Regions from separate parts of the Homo sapiens genome. Here region 1 is linked to region 2. Evidence: fine-mapped expression QTL. A gene starts in region 2. The other region holds a variant in brackets. All regions are shown on one strand. Distances are from middle to middle. Region 1 holds the start of LRG1 (leucine rich alpha-2-glycoprotein 1). Region 2 holds the start of PLIN4 (perilipin 4).

Region 1 (8,320 bases), 21 kb before region 2:
CGCGCCTGGGACCACGGCCACCCCCTGCTCCCGGCCTCCGCTTCATCCTCCCTCCTGCTGCTGGCGCCCGCCCGGGCCCCCGAGCAGCCCCCCGCGCCTGGGGAGCCGACCCCCGACGGCCGCCTCTATGCTGCCCGGCCCGGCCGCGCCTCCCACGGCGACTTCCCGCTCACCCCCCACGCCAGCCCGGACCGCCGGCGGGTGGTGTCCGCGCCCACGGGCCCCTTGGACCCAGCCTCAGCCGCCGATGGCCTCCCGCGGCCCTGGAGCCCGCCCCCGACGGGCAGCCTGAGGAGGCCACTGGGCCCCCACGCCCCTCCGGCCGCCACCCTGCGCCGCACCCACACGTTCAACAGCGGCGAGGCCCGGCCTGGGGACCGCCACCGCGGCTGCCACGCCCGGCCGGGCACAGACTTGGCCCACCTCCTCCCCTATGGGGGGGCGGACAGGACTGCGCCCCCCGTGCCCTAGGCCGGGGGCCCCCCGATGCCTTGGCAGTGCCAGCCACGGGAACCAGGAGCGAGAGACGGTGCCAGAACGCCGGGGCCCGGGGCAACTCCGAGTGGGTGCTCAAGTCCCCCCCGCGACCCACCCGCGGAGTGGGGGGCCCCCTCCGCCACAAGGAAGCACAACCAGCTCGCCCTCCCCCTACCCGGGGCCGCAGGACGCTGAGACGGTTTGGGGGTGGGTGGGCGGGAGGACTTTGCTATGGATTTGAGGTTGACCTTATGCGCGTAGGTTTTGGTTTTTTTTGCAGTTTTGGTTTCTTTTGCGGTTTTCTAACCAATTGCACAACTCCGTTCTCGGGGTGGCGGCAGGCAGGGGAGGCTTGGACGCCGGTGGGGAATGGGGGGCCACAGCTGCAGACCTAAGCCCTCCCCCACCCCTGGAAAGGTCCCTCCCCAACCCAGGCCCCTGGCGTGTGTGGGTGTGCGTGCGTGTGCGTGCCGTGTTCGTGTGCAAGGGGCCGGGGAGGTGGGCGTGTGTGTGCGTGCCAGCGAAGGCTGCTGTGGGCGTGTGTGTCAAGTGGGCCACGCGTGCAGGGTGTGTGTCCACGAGCGACGATCGTGGTGGCCCCAGCGGCCTGGGCGTTGGCTGAGCCGACGCTGGGGCTTCCAGAAGGCCCGGGGGTCTCCGAGGTGCCGGTTAGGAGTTTGAACCCCCCCCACTCTGCAGAGGGAAGCGGGGACAATGCCGGGGTTTCAGGCAGGAGACACGAGGAGGGCCTGCCCGGAAGTCACATCGGCAGCAGCTGTCTAAAGGGCTTGGGGGCCTGGGGGGCGGCGAAGGTGGGTGGGGCCCCTCTGTAAATACGGCCCCAGGGTGGTGAGAGAGTCCCATGCCACCCGTCCCCTTGTGACCTCCCCCCTCTGACCTCCAGCTGACCATGCATGCCACGTGGCTGGCTGGGTCCTCTGCCCTCTCTGGAGTTTGCCTCCCCCAGCCCCCTCCCCATCAATAAAACTCTGTTTACAACCACCGGCCCCCATGACTCTGGCTCTGCTCTGCCTCCTGGGGGTGGCACGGGTGGGGGCACCCTCAAAAGTCAAGGCCAGGCCGGGCGCGGTGGCTCACGCCTGTAATCCCGGCACTTTGGGAGGCCGAGGTGTGCAGATCACTTGAGGTCAAGAGTTCGAGACTAGCCTGGCCAACATGGCAAAACCCCGTCTCTACTAAAAATACAAAAAATCAGCCAGGCTTGGTGGCGGGTTCCTGTAATTCCAGCTACTCGGCCGACTGAGGCAGAAGAATAGCTTGAATCTGAGAGTCAGAGGTTGCAGTGAGCTGAGATCACACCACTGCACTACAGCCTGGGTGACAGAGCGAGACGCTGTCTCAAAAAAAAAAAAAAAAAAAAGGCTGGGTCAAAACAAATCTGGGGAGCTGAGTGTGGAAACATGGAGACTTCGGGGTCCCCATCTTCATCTGCATAGGAGCCAGTTTCTTTTTCTTTTTCTTTTTCTTTTTTTGAGACAGAGTCTCACTTTGTCACCCAGGCTGGAGTATAGTGGCGCGATCTCGGCTCACTGCAACCTATGCCTCCTGGGTGCAAGCAATTCTCCTGTCTCAGCCTCTCCAGTAGCTGGGACTACAGGCACCCGCCACCACGCCCCGCTAATTTTTGTATTTTTAGTACAGACGGGGTTTCATCATATTGGTCAGGCTGGTCTCGAACTCCTGAACTCAGGTGATCCGCTTGCCTCGGCCTCCCAAAATGCTGGGATTACAGGCGTGAGCCACTGCGCCTGGCCAGCCTTATGAATTTTGTTTTAAGTGGGACAAGAAGCCATCAGAGAGTTTTAAGCAGGGATGTGATCTCATTTCATTTTAATGGATCGTTTTGTTACTGTGTCACTACATTTCACAAGCCTTCCTTCCTCTCAGTCCATGTTGATTAAGACCAACTAACGGCTGGGCTCCGGAGACTGGGCAGGGCACAAGACTGACGGAGTGCAGTGGCTCACGTCTATAACCCCAGCACTTTGAGAGACTGAGAAGATTCCTTGAGCCCAGGAGTTTGAGACCAGCCTAGGTAACATACAAAAGAATTTTTTAAATTAGCCAGGCATGGTAGCATGTGCCTGTATTCCCAGCTACTCGGGAGGCTGAGGCAGGAGAATCGTTTGAACCCAGGAGGTGGAGCTTGCAGTGAGCCGAAATTGCATCACTGCACTCCAGCATGGGTGGCAGAGGGAGACTCCATCTCAAAAAAAATTAGCCAGGCATGGTGGCACGTGCCCGTAGTCCCAGCTACTTGGGAGGCCTTGGACCCATGGTCAAAGCTACAGTTAGCTATGATTGCACCACACTGCTCCAAGCTGGGTAACAGAGCAAAATGCTGTCTCAAAAAAAAAAAAAAATGACGGGGCATGGTGGCTCACACCTGTAATTTTAGCAGTTTAGGAGGCCGAGGCCAGTGGATCACATGAGCTCAGGAGTTCAAGACCAGCCTGGGCCACATGGCAAAATCCTGTCTCTATTAAAAATATAAAAATTAACCAGGCACGCTGGTGCATGCCTGTAGTCCCAGCTACTCGGGAGGCTGAGGTGGGAGAATGGCGTGAACCCGGGAGGCGGAGCTTGCAGTGAGTGGAGATCACGCCACTGCACTCCAGCCTAGGCAACAGTGCAAGACTCTGTCTCAAAAAAAAAAAGAAAAAAAAAATAGTCATAGCTGCAGATAAAGGTGACACCATCATACCTAAATATTTAGAACTCAACAAGAATGCAAGCACTCTGCAGCCAAGTCCATGAGATGCAGCCAAAGCTGTTCTCAAAGGGAAATTTGTAGCCTCCAAACGCATTTAATAGGAAATGAGGAAGAATGGAAACAATAGCATGGATGTCAGATTCAGATGAAGAGAAAAAAGGGCAGAAGGAGCCCTTGGAGATTTGAGTTCAGCTTCATAGATGGGGAAACTGAGGCCAAGAAAAGTTAAGTCACTTGCCAAAGGTCACAAAGCAAAGGTGTTCATGACAGAGCTGGAATTCAGAACCAGGTTTGGTTCCTCCCAAGCCACTGTCTAAGGACCGTAGAGACGTTTGGCATTACTCACTATTGGACTGTATTTTTAAAATGACTTCTTTTAAAAAAAGCAATATCAACATACCATGAAATCAAGACGAGTTTTTTTGTTCTTTTCAGTGAGCTTCTGGGTTGCTCAAGTTTATGGTAAATCCCTCCTCTTGCTCAGAGAGCTGTCCCTGTCTCCAGGAATAGTGCCTTGCAAACCTTGACCCTTGAACTCCGGGTTGGGGGAAGTGAGGATGCAACTAGAGAGACTCTTGGATGCCCCCCAAAAATCAGGAAGCAAGGAAAGAAAAACCTGTGTTCTAGAAGCAGGGTCAAAAAGGGGTTGAACAGGAAACAATTTCCAGGAAGCAATTTTGTAATCCTGACCCCTCCCCTTCCCCTGCCTGGCTTAGGCTCAGCCCCTATCAGGAACTGGACGGGGGTGGGGACTTCCCCAGGGTTGGTTCCCCTGCCCCCAGTCCAGGCAGGTATAAGGCCACCTCCGCAGGCCAGGACAACCCAGAAGCAAAAGAGCAGAGCTACCATGTCCTCTTGGAGCAGACAGCGACCAAAAAGGTAGGTCCCCACACTACCTGTCCTAGGCAGGTTTGAACGCCAGACCATGCGGAGATACAGGACATTCCAGCTAACCCATAGAAGTCACAGGGAGCAGATACAGGCCTGGTGGCTGGCACAGATCAACCTTATCTGTGACAGAAAGACTGGCGCGTGCACACACACACACACCCCTACAGAAGCCCAGGTGGGCATGGGCAGCAGGGAGCCGGGGGAGGCTTCTTGTTAGAGGCCTGGGGCCACAGTGACCAAGGCTGTCGAGATCATGTCTGATGGCTGCCGGGCCAGGGAAGCCCTGGAGGAGGAGGGGAAGCCCCAGGCTTCCAAGGGTTGTGGTGCTAAGTGTAAACCACCGCTTCCCAAGGCCAAATGCCCACCCTCAGACCTGGCCAAAGCAGGACACACTTTTCATGTTCAGAGGCTGCAGTGAGCTGTGATCATGCCAGTTCCCTCCAGCCTGGGCAACTGAGCAAGACTCTGTCTCAAAAACATGAACCTGAACGTCTGTCTTCCTCCAAGCACCCAATTGGTCAAGAGTGGACAAAAAGACCAG[G/T]ATCCCAGAGCAGAGAAGTCTTCATGGAAAAGAGGGCATTGGAGCTGGGGCTTTGAAGGATGAATAGGAGTTCACATCAAAACACAGAGCCAGGGAGACAAGGACTGACCCAGAAAATAAGCCAGATCAGAAGAAACTAGCAAGTTGGACTGTGAATAATTAACAGCTCATGGGGGCTAGGCTGGTGATGGGGAAGTGTATTCATATTATGCGGGAGTTACACTCAGAAACTCAACTTTCCTAGAATTATAATTCTCCCTGGAACAGGGGCCACTTCTGGCAGCTGTCGGGGGTGAGGGTAGAAGCTGGAAGAGGAGGAGGAAGCAACTGCCCTAGTACAGGTGAGAGATGAGGTAGCATAGTCCAGGCTGGTAGCCGCAGAGATGGGAAGAAGTGGGCGGATTTGCTGGTGTATTTTCACCTAGCTGAGTGTATTTTCACTGTGGTTTAGTAAGCATCTTCTGTTACTGCCTGCAGCCCAGGGGGCATTCAACCCCATGTTTCTAGAACTCTGTTCCTGCTGCTGCTGTTGGCAGCCTCAGCCTGGGGGGTCACCCTGAGCCCCAAAGACTGCCAGGTGTTCCGCTCAGACCATGGCAGCTCCATCTCCTGTCAACCACCTGCCGAAATCCCCGGCTACCTGCCAGCCGACACCGTGCACCTGGCCGTGGAATTCTTCAACCTGACCCACCTGCCAGCCAACCTCCTCCAGGGCGCCTCTAAGCTCCAAGAATTGCACCTCTCCAGCAATGGGCTGGAAAGCCTCTCGCCCGAATTCCTGCGGCCAGTGCCGCAGCTGAGGGTGCTGGATCTAACCCGAAACGCCCTGACCGGGCTGCCCCCGGGCCTCTTCCAGGCCTCAGCCACCCTGGACACCCTGGTATTGAAAGAAAACCAGCTGGAGGTCCTGGAGGTCTCGTGGCTACACGGCCTGAAAGCTCTGGGGCATCTGGACCTGTCTGGGAACCGCCTCCGGAAACTGCCCCCCGGGCTGCTGGCCAACTTCACCCTCCTGCGCACCCTTGACCTTGGGGAGAACCAGTTGGAGACCTTGCCACCTGACCTCCTGAGGGGTCCGCTGCAATTAGAACGGCTACATCTAGAAGGCAACAAATTGCAAGTACTGGGAAAAGATCTCCTCTTGCCGCAGCCGGACCTGCGCTACCTCTTCCTGAACGGCAACAAGCTGGCCAGGGTGGCAGCCGGTGCCTTCCAGGGCCTGCGGCAGCTGGACATGCTGGACCTCTCCAATAACTCACTGGCCAGCGTGCCCGAGGGGCTCTGGGCATCCCTAGGGCAGCCAAACTGGGACATGCGGGATGGCTTCGACATCTCCGGCAACCCCTGGATCTGTGACCAGAACCTGAGCGACCTCTATCGTTGGCTTCAGGCCCAAAAAGACAAGATGTTTTCCCAGAATGACACGCGCTGTGCTGGGCCTGAAGCCGTGAAGGGCCAGACGCTCCTGGCAGTGGCCAAGTCCCAGTGAGACCAGGGGCTTGGGTTGAGGGTGGGGGGTCTGGTAGAACACTGCAACCCGCTTAACAAATAATCCTGCCTTTGGCCGGGTGCGGGGGCTCACGCCTGTAATCCCAGCACTTTGGGAGGCCCAGGTGGGCGGATCACGAGGTCAGGAGATCGAGACCATCTTGGCTAACATGGTGAAACCCTGTCTCTACTAAAAATATAAAAAATTAGCCAGGCGTGGTGGTGGGCACCTGTAGTCCCAGCAACTCGGGAGGCTGAGGCAGGAGAATGGCGTGAACTTGGGAGGCGGAGCTTGCGGTGAGCCAAGATCGTGCCACTGCACTCTAGCCTGGGCGACAGAGCAAGACTGTCTCAAAAAAATTAAAATTAAAATTAAAAACAAATAATCCTGCCTTTTACAGGTGAAACTCGGGGCTGTCCATAGCGGCTGGGACCCCGTTTCATCCATCCATGCTTCCTAGAACACACGATGGGCTTTCCTTACCCATGCCCAAGGTGTGCCCTCCGTCTGGAATGCCGTTCCCTGTTTCCCAGATCTCTTGAACTCTGGGTTCTCCCAGCCCCTTGTCCTTCCTTCCAGCTGAGCCCTGGCCACACTGGGGCTGCCTTTCTCTGACTCTGTCTTCCCCAAGTCAGGGGGCTCTCTGAGTGCAGGGTCTGATGCTGAGTCCCACTTAGCTTGGGGTCAGAACCAAGGGGTTTAATAAATAACCCTTGAAAACTGGATCGGATGAATTGGCTTTCATTGTGTTCCTAGCATCTTCTCAAATCAACTTCCCAGGACTCCAGGGTGAAGGAGGAAAAGAGGCATGGCCCAGGCCCTGGGGTGTGGGATATGGTCTCCCTAGGGGATGACAGTTGGGATCAATGGCCTGTGACTTCTCCTCTCCCTTCCCCCATCCTGGGACCTAACTGGAAATAAAACCTTGACTGTTGCCCGGGTGTCATTTTACCAGTGGATTTCTGCCAGGGCTTGTGTCCTAGGAGAAGGTTTAAGTTAAACCAGATTGCCCAGGTCTCCAAACGATTTGTCATGCTGACCTGAGATCATCGAAGGGGGCACCTGCCCCCGGGCAAGGTTGCAGGGGCAGGATGGGGCTGAAGGGATGAGCAGGGTCCCGGGCCCACCTGCTGATACAGCATTGGCCATGTGGGGGCTGCAATCGGATTTGGAAGACCCTGGGGCTTGGGGGCATGTCCAGTTTTCCCAGCTCCCTAAAAAATGACCATGCAGCCTGGCGCCGTGGCTCATGCCTGTAATCCAAACACTTTGGGAGGCTGAGGCAGGCAGATCACCGGAGGTCAGGAGTTCGAGACCAGACTGGCCAACATGGCAAAACCCTGTCTCTACTAAAAATACAAAAATTAGCCAGGCACAGTGGCACGTGCCTGTAATACCAGCTACTTGGGAGGGTCAGGCAGGAGAATCACTTGAACCTGGGAGGCGGAGGTTGCAGTGAGCCAAGATCACGCCACTGCACTCCAGGCTGGGCGACAGAGTGAAACTGTGTCTCAAAAATAAAAATAAAAATAAAAAGACCATGCCTACATCTGTGGTCATTCCAGGCAAGGCAATGAAAAGGCAGGGTTCTGAGGTCCAGCAGGGCTGGGTTTGAATAGGATCCCTGGCCGGGCACGGTGGCTCATGCCTGTAATCCTAGTACTTTGGGAGGCCAAGGCAGGCAAATCACGAGGTCAGGAGTCCAAGACCAGCCTGACGAATATGGTGACACCCCGTCTCTACTAAAAATACAAAAATTAGCTAGGTGTGGTGGCAGGCGCCTGTAATCCCAGCTACTCCGGAGGCCGAGGCAGGAGAATCACTTGAACCCAGGGGGCGGAGGTTGCAGTGTGTCAAGATCGCGCCACTGCACTCCAGCCTGGGCGACAGAGTCAGACTCTGTCTCAAAAAAAAAAAAAGAAAAAAAAGGAATAGGATCCCTCACTTGCTGTGGTATGCGGGGCAAGTGTTTTATGATCTCTGAGCCTCAGCTTGCTCATCTGTGAAATGGGGATCCTAGGGAAAGGGAAGGCCTGGCTTCTGGCTTAGTTAAGGGGCAGATTAAGAAATAAAAAGAGGCTGGGTGCAATGGCTCACACCTGTAATCCCAGCAATTTGGAAGGCTGAGGTGGAAGGATCACTTGGGGCTCAGGGGTTGAAGACAAGCCTGGTCAACACAGGGACATCT
Region 2 (8,320 bases):
GGCTCCATGAAGCGAATCCAAATCTTTCCAAGAGGCTGGGCACAGTGGCTCACGCCTGTAATCCCAGCACTTTGGGAGTCTGAGGCAGGTGGATCATCTGAAGTCAGGAGTTCGGGATCATCCTGGCCAACATGATGAAACCCTGTCTCTACTTAGAAAGAAAGAAAAAAAAAAAAAAAGCCAGGTGTGGTGGTGTGCACCTGTAGTCCCAGCTAGTTGTGAGGCTGACGCAGAAGAATTGCTTAAACCCGAGAGGCGCGGAGCTTGCAGTGAGCAGAGATCGCGCCACTGCACACCAGCCTGGGTGACAGAGCGAGACTCCATCTAACAAAAAATAATAGTAACAGCCTCCCGAAGAAATACACATTTTGCCCAATGCCTTCTGTTTGGGGCTTTGAAAAGTGAGCCCTGACTGGGTGTGGTGGTTGACACCTGTTATCACAGCACTTTGGGAGGCCAAGGTGGGAGGACTGCTTGAGCCCAGGAGTTGGAGGCTGCAGTGAGCCATGATCTTGCCCCTGCGCTCTCGCCTGGGTGACAGAGCAAGACTCTATCTCAAAAATGTTTTTAAAAAATACTTCCTAGGGAAACACACATTTTGCCCTATTTGGAACTTTGAAAAGTGAGCCCTCCTCTGCCCATGGGCCGTGCTGCTCAGCCTGCCATACTCGCTTGCTTTGCTGTTTGGGATTTGCCTCCAGAATAAAGGTCCTTTTTGTTGTTGAAAGGCCCACGTGTGTGTTCCAGCCAGGGTGAGTCTCAGTCCCAGGGGGCTGGGGGCCACGGAGGTGTGTCACTGCTGAGACATGGAGAAGGGGGTGTGTAGAGCCAGAGTTCAAGATCTAGAAGAATGGTGCTTCTCTGACCTGCCTGTCATCCTGTCTGGGATCCACCGTTACTGCCCAGCCCATGTGGGGTAAGCATTACCACTTAAAATTAGCCGGGCACCATGGCTCATATCGGTAATCCCAGCACTTTGGGAGGCTGAGGTGGGAGGATTTCATGAGCCCGGGAGTTTTGACACCAGCCTGGGCAACATAGGAGACCTTGTCTCTACGAAAAATTTTAAAATGACACATGGTACGAGCCTGTGCCCCAGCTACTCGGGAGGCTGAGGCAGCAGGATCGCTTGAGCCTAGGAAGTTGAGGTTGCAGTGAGCTTGGATCAGTAACCACTCCACTCCAGCCTGGGCAACAGAGTGAGACCCTGTCTCTAAAAATAAACAACAGCATTGCCCCTTTGGCCGCATGGAAGCTGTTCTCATCTTGGTACAGGTGAATTTCATGGAATTGCAGGGAGCAGAAAAGATGGGGAAGGAGTCAGATGGGGCAGCTCTCTCTCTACCTCCTGGTCCTGCAGGAGCTGGTCTTGCTGTGGTCTCTCCAGCTGCACTGGCCAGGATGGGAAGACAGAGGCAGGGCAAGGGCCATAGGCTGGTCTCGGGGGTTTCCTCCTGTCCTCTGACCGCATTCCTGGCTGCTCTTCCGACTCCCCTGGGGCTGGGCGGGGTGTTGGGAAACCACAGCTTGGTATGGTGAGGTCAGGGTGGCCCCTGACTTCCCTGGGACATAGTCCAGAGGGCAGCTCTGGGATCTCCGACCACTTCCACCAGCCAAATCTACCTCCCTGCTCCTGTTCTGGAATCTCCCACAGGTCCCCACTGCCCACAGACCAAACTCTTCACCTTCCAGCTTCCTCCTCCAGCCTGACCTGGATACTTTGCTCTCTTACCATTGAAGTGGGCACATTCCCACCTCCGGGCCTTTGCTGAGGCTGTGCGGCCACCTTGGAATACTCTTCCCACCCCCCATCCGTCCCTCGGACACATCTCATACATCCTCAAGGCCCAGCCTCAATGCCTCCTCCTCCAGGAAGGCTTCCAGGACTCCATCCCAGCCGGATACTTCCCTCCTCCGGTCCTCCACAGGCCACCTTCTCAAGGTTTCTTGCCCTTTCCACCTTGACTTTATAGCCACAGGCAGCCTTGCTCTCTCTTCCCACATGAGGCTGGGGGCTCCTGGCAGGGCCAGGCCTGTTGAGGATGATCAGAACAGCACATAGGGGTAGGCATTTTGGCAGAGGGAACAGCTTAGGGAAAGGCACAGCAGTAGGGAAATCAGTTTCACTGCAGCAGAGGTGAGGAAAAGAGAATGGGTTGAGCTAAGCCCTGGGATTTTTCTTTTCTTTTCTTTTCTTTGGGGGGGTGGGGAAGGAGTCTCACTCTGTCACCCAGGCTGGAGTGCAGTGGCGCGATCTTGGCTCACTGCAACCTCCACCTCCCAGGTTCAAGTGATTCTCCTGCCTCAGCCTCCCGAGTAGCTGGGATTACAGGCGTGCGCCACCACACACAGCTGATTTTTGTATTTTTAGTAGAGATAGGGTTTTGCCATGTTGGCCAGGCTGGTCTCGAACCCTGACCTCAGGTGATCCACCTGCCTCGGCCTCCCAAGATGCTGGGATTACAGGCATGAGTCACCGCGCCTGGCCCATTAATTCATTTAATTTTTATTTAAAGATATATTTTGGGCAGCCGGGCACAGTGGCTCATGCCTGTAACCCCAGCGCTTTGGGAGGCCGAGGCAGGTGGATCACGAGGTCAGGAGATCGAGACCATCCTGCCTAGCACAGTGAAACCCTGTCTCTACTAAAAATACAAAAAATTAGCTGGGTGTGGTGGCGAGTGCCTGTAGTCCCAGCTACTCGGGAGGCTGAGGCAGGAGAATGGCATGAACCCGGGAGGCAGAGCTTGCAGTGAGCCGAGATCGCACCACTGTACTCCAGCCTGGGCGACAGAGCGCGACCCCGCCTCAACAGAAATATATATATATAAAATATATTTTTTTTATTTATTTTTTTTTTTTTTTCTTTTGTTCTTTTGAGGCGGGGTGGCGCTCTGTCGCCCAGGCTGGTCTCAAACTCCTGTGCTCAAGCCAATCCTCCTGCCTCGGTCTCCCTAAATGCTGGGGTTACAGGGTGAGCCATGGCACCTGGCCTGAGGTATATATTTTTTAAAGGGAGAGGAGATCCAGGAATGCCTCTTTGAGGAAGTGATATTTGAGGAAAGACCTGGAAGGAGGTGAGGGATGTGGGAAAGGGTGCTGGAGGCAAAAGCAACAACCCACACGAAAGCCCTGAGGAAGGGTGTGCGGGGCTAAGCAGGCACAGTCACGTGTGTCTTTGAGGGACTCTGTCCTGGCATGTTATGGGAACAGTGAAAAGGCCCGTGTGGCTGGAGCAGAGTGAAGAGAAGAAGGAGAGGAAGGTGGGGAGCAGACGAGGCAGGTTATGCAGGGCCTACCGGGCTGCAGGAAGGGGACTTGGGCTTTGACCCTGGGCTCCCACCCCGGAGAAGGTGGGAGCCATGGAGGGTGCTGGGCAGAGGAGGGGTAGATCCTGGCTGGGATGTTTATGATCACTTTTTAATTTTTTCTCTCCACACACTGGGCTGTGGCTGCCCTTTGGGAAGGGGAGGGGCACCCAGAGCTCTCCCAGCCACCCTTGGGAAGCACTGGCTGGTAGAAGAGGTTGGGGGACACCCCCCCTTCTGTTCCCCCACTGTTTGGCAAACACAGTGTCGGCTCCAAGGAGACAGACGGCCTGGGAATCATCAGATCCTGTGGCTGTACCCTCCCTCCTCCCAGCCCAGTGCCCAGAGCCACCCATGGGGTCTGCCCTCTCACCCCCAATAACACAGGGCTAGGAACCCTGTCTCAGGGGCAGGTAGGAGGGGGACACAGCCCAGGGTGGGCGTTACGGCCATTCCTCTGCCCACCCACCCACAGACAGCCCAGCACATAGGCTGGGCTCAGCACGAAGGTCCTGGGTCTGGGTTTGAATCCCGTCCTCACCACTTCCTGGAACAGGAGGGTCTGGGTTTGAATCCCATCCTCACCACTTCTGGAACAGGACGCCTCCTCCAGGGAGCCTCCCTGGGTTGGCCCAAGCCCCCCAGGCTGGGTTTCCACTCCTAGGGTGCCCCCAGCTTGGCTGGTGCTCCATCTTGGTCTGCGTTTTGGCCCAAGTCCCTTCCGGAGAGTGATGGGCTCCCCTCCACACTGAGGACACCCCCTGCTCCTTGCCGAGACCCCGAGACCCCGCTTCTGCCTGGGTAACGCGAAGGCAGCATTTGTTCAGTGCATGACCTCATCTCACAGAGGCTCACAACCACTCTCTGTGTTGCTCCATTGAGCCAAACGTGTATTAAGCGCCAAATGTATGCCAGGCACTGTTCTGTGGGCGGAAGAGGGTGCCCTGTGGGAACCTGCAGGGAAGGTGTTCCAGGCAGAGGGCACAGCCCGTGCAGAGGCCCTAAGGCAGGACCGTGCCAGGTGCGCTGGAGGCATAGCGAGGAGGCCTGTGTGGCTGGGATGAAGCAAGCGAAGGAGGAAGCTGGGGGAGATGAGAGCAGAGAAGAAGCTGGATGTTACGGGACGTGGTGCGGAGTACGAGAGAGAAACCTGAAGCAAAAAGATGGTAACTGGCCAAGGCATCCTGGTGCAGCAGAGATTTGAACTACACCCACCTCGTGGATGGAACTGGAGGCTCAGGGGCCCGGGAGGGGAGCCCATCTGGCCTGTGAGCCACTCAGCCTGATGCAAGCTGTGGGCAGGAAACAGGGGAAAGGTGCTGGGCCTGGGCCCATGCTGGGCTGGGCAGGTAGCCATGTGACCGTCCAGGCCACCTCCCCCGGGCCCATTGGCCGCCTGCCGCTGCTGGCTGGGCCTGCGCCTGCCCCGGACCCTATAAGGCCAGGGAGCTGAGGGTAGAGCCAGCTGCCAGCCGGGCCGGTCCGTCCTCCAGGGGACCCCGCGCAGTCCAGGTGAGCGGGGCCGCGTCTGCTTCGGTGACACCAGGGTGAGGCCAGGCCTGCAGGTGGGTGTCGGGCTGCTCAGGCTTTCAGTGGGGAGTGGGTGTGGGATGGGAGGCTAGGGAACCCCCATTCACGCACCTTCTCTGCCCCCTTCCAGCTTCTCACGTTCTCACTATGTCTGCTCCAGACGAAGGGAGACGGGATCCCCCCAAACCGAAGGGCAAGGTAAAGAGGGGAAATGGGGCAGATTCTTGCTGGGGCCTGGAGATGCCCCAGAGCCGGGGAAGGTGACCTCCACAGTCCTGGGGTCTCGAATCTGGAGAGGTGCTTCCCTGGTGGGCTGGTGGGGGCGGTCTGGGAGCCATGATGCCAATCCCTTCCTTTCTGACCCAAGCTGGAGGCGGGGGACCCACGCAGACCTCGACACCTTCCCCAGCAAGTGACCTTGGGCCGGCCTCAGCTCCGCCCCTCTCTGAGCCTCAGTTTCCCCATCTGTGCAGTGGGGATCCTGGAAGGAAAAGGTCTTTGGAGATCGGGTAGACGATCTTTTCCTCTGTGCATGGGAGGCAGGCTGAGTCTGCCCATTGCCCAGGTGTGGAAATTGAGGCTGAGTGGCTGAAACACTTTCCTGAGGTCACCCAGGAGCAAGGGGCCGGGGCGGCATTGGGCTGATCAATCGATGCTTCCTCTGACCCGTTCCTGCCGAGGCTTGGCCTGCTCATCCTGCACACCCCCCGCCCCCATGCAGACCCTGGGCAGCTTCTTTGGGTCCCTGCCTGGCTTCAGCTCTGCCCGGAACCTGGTGGCCAACGCACATAGCTCGGCGAGAGCCCGGCCGGCCGCTGACCCCACAGGAGCGCCTGCTGCCGAGGCTGCCCAACCACAGGCTCAGGGTGAGTGGCTGGCCCAGCTGGGGGCGTGGGGGGACTCTACACATGGACCTGGGAGAAGGAGCTCCCCGGGCAGGGACTTCCAGCCATTTGGGGAGTCCTCCATATTTGTCTGTGTGCTCTCATCAGACACTAGGACATCTTGTGGTGGATGGGGAAACTGAGGCATAAATATGGGGGGTGAGTGGCCGAAGGTGGCTTTCAACCCAGCCTGTCTCCCTGCAATGCCCCCCCACTCAGTCCCTCGGCCGTTCCCCCACCCTGCACTCCGTTTCTGATGCACCATGGCCCAGGCTGGGTGCTCTGCCCATCTGAGCTCATCAGAGTGAGATCCAGACTCCCAGGGAGGAGCAACAGCTCCCCTGGGGTCACACAGCCCAGGGGCTCCCCAGCCTCCTGTGGCTCAGCTTGGGCGATCAGGGACGGTGACAGGGAACCCAGGGTTGGGGCAGCCGCCTGAGCTGGGCCTCCCTCTGGGCCCAGAGCCCCAGGCAGCTGACTTCTGCTCCACATGCCTTGGCCTGGCAATAGGCAGCAGGCAGCTGCGGTGGGGGCGGGGCGGGCTGGGCAAGGGGCTGTTCCCCCATGCCAGGCTATATGAACCCCGGGACTCAGGGTGGGTGTCCACCCAGCAGAGGAAGTTCCACAGAGCCCTACTTCAGGGAACAGCGGCCCTGGGCTTGGGGGGAGCCCCCAGCGGGGTTGGGGGGTGACCAGGTCTGGCTGGTAGCCGTGGATGTCACCTCCTGCTGTCCCTGGCGGGGTAGCTGAAACATTCCTGACCTTTTAGGCTGTGCCTGGCTATTGTGCAATGGGCAGCCGGGTAGATGGTTCTAACTGCATCCCTCACTCTCCCTGACCGGCCCCTGTCCCCACAGTGGCTGCCCACCCAGAGCAGACGGCCCCATGGACGGAGAAGGAGCTGCAACCTTCGGAAAAGGTGAGAGGATGTGCAGGGCAGGGTCTGATGTGGCAGGAGCCCTGGGGGTGCCCCCTCCTGCGACATTTCAGTTCCTGCTATCTGGGGGGCTGCTCCCTCCTGGGACATTTCAGTTCCTGCTATCTGGGGGGCTGCTGTGGGCCTGAGGGAAGGCAGACAGCCTGGGGATCCCAGGCGGAGCTTCCCCTCTGAGCCTCTATTTCCACATCTGTGAAATGGGTGCAGTGCTACCCCACTCTAATCACGTAAGGTTCCAGTCTACACAGGGCTGTGCCTGGCAAGATGAGACCAAAGCGACAGCAGCGTAAGCACTTTATTTCTTCTACTTTTATTTTTTGAGATGCAGTTTTGCTGTTTCACCCAGGCTGGAGTGCAGTGGCACAATCTCAGTTCACTGCAACCTCTGCCTCCCAGGTTCAAGCGATTCTCCTGCCTCAACCTCCTGAGTAGCTGGGACTACAAGTGCTCACCGCCATGCCCAGCTAATTTTTGTATTTTTAGTAGATACGGGGTTTCACCATGTTGGTTTCACCAGGCTGGTCTCCAACTCCTGACCTCAAGTGATCCACCCACCTCAGCCTCCCAAAGTGCTGGGATTACAGGCATTAGCCACTGCGCCTGGCAAGAGGATCTGTTTTAATCAGCATTTTCCAGATGAGGATATTAGCTCAGAGAGGGCATGTGGCTTGCCTAAGGCCACACAGCGAGTGTCGGGAGCAGGAGAGGGTAAAAAGCTGGGACTTGAACCTGGGTCTCTCCAACTACAGGGCCCAAGGTGCCCACCTGAGCCAAAGCTGGGAGATGTGTTCTGAGAATACAATTTCCGGGCTTCTCAACCTCAGTACTGTGGATATTTGGGGTTGGATCATTCTCTGGGGTGGGGCCATCCTGGGCACTGCAGGGTGCCGAGCAGCATCCCTGGTCTCCACCTACTCCATGCCAGGAGCCTCCCCAAGTTGTGACAACTACAGATGTCTCCAGACATCACCCAGTGCCCCCTGGGGGCAGAATCACCCAGTTGAAAACTACTGAATTAAAATAGCACCTTGGCCGGGCACGGTGGTTCACACCTGTAATCCCAACACTTTGGGAGGCTGAGGCAGGCAGATCAGTTGAGCTCAGGAGTTTGAGACCAGCCTGGCCAACATGGTGAAACCTCATCTCTACTAAAAATACAAAAATTAGCTGGGCATGGTGGTGCACGCCTGTAATACCAGCTACTCAGGAGGCTGAGGCAGAAAAATTACTGAACCCAGGAGGCGGAGACTGCAGTGAGCCGAGATCTCGCCACTGCACTCCAGTCTGGGTGACAGAGTGAGACTCTGTTTCAAAAAACAAACAAACAAAAAAAGTAGCACCTCACAGGTACACCCGAGAGTTAGAACTCCTAGGCCATCATCATCTTCATTCATTTTTGTGTTTTTTAATTTTTTTTTATCTTTTGAGACAGTCTCGCTCTGTCACCCAGGCTGGAGGGCAATGGCACGATCTCGGCTCACTGCAATCTCTGCCTCCTGGGTTCAAGCGATTCTCCTGCCTCAGCCTCCAGAGTAGCTGGGATTACAGGTGCCTGCCACCATGCCTGGCTAATTTTTGTATTTTTAGTAGAGACAGGGTTTCGCCATGTTGGTCAGGCTGGTCTCGAACTCTTGACCTCAGGTGATCCACCTGCCTCGGCC

The links. PIP is the estimated chance that this variant, and not a neighbour inherited with it, causes the effect.
Region 1: its variant is fine-mapped to the expression of PLIN4 in whole blood (TOPMed, PIP above 0.99).

Annotation. Positions count from the first base shown.
Region 1 is chr19:4,535,752-4,544,071 of GRCh38, reverse strand. It overlaps LRG1 (leucine rich alpha-2-glycoprotein 1), which reads left to right and starts at 4,036. Exons shown (of 2, transcript NM_052972.3): 1 at 4,036-4,090; 2 at 5,121-7,670. The coding sequence starts at 4,059. The coding sequence ends at 6,132. SEMA6B (semaphorin 6B) reads left to right here. Exons shown (of 17, transcript NM_032108.4): 17 at 1-1,479. The coding sequence ends at 471. The variant G/T (reference allele first, on the strand shown) is at 4,644.
Region 2 is chr19:4,514,938-4,523,257 of GRCh38, reverse strand. PLIN4 (perilipin 4) reads left to right here and starts at 4,772. Exons shown (of 8, transcript NM_001367868.2): 1 at 4,772-4,873; 2 at 4,969-5,036; 3 at 5,560-5,704; 4 at 6,580-6,641. The coding sequence starts at 4,986. PLIN5 (perilipin 5) reads left to right here. Exons shown (of 8, transcript NM_001013706.3): 8 at 1-727.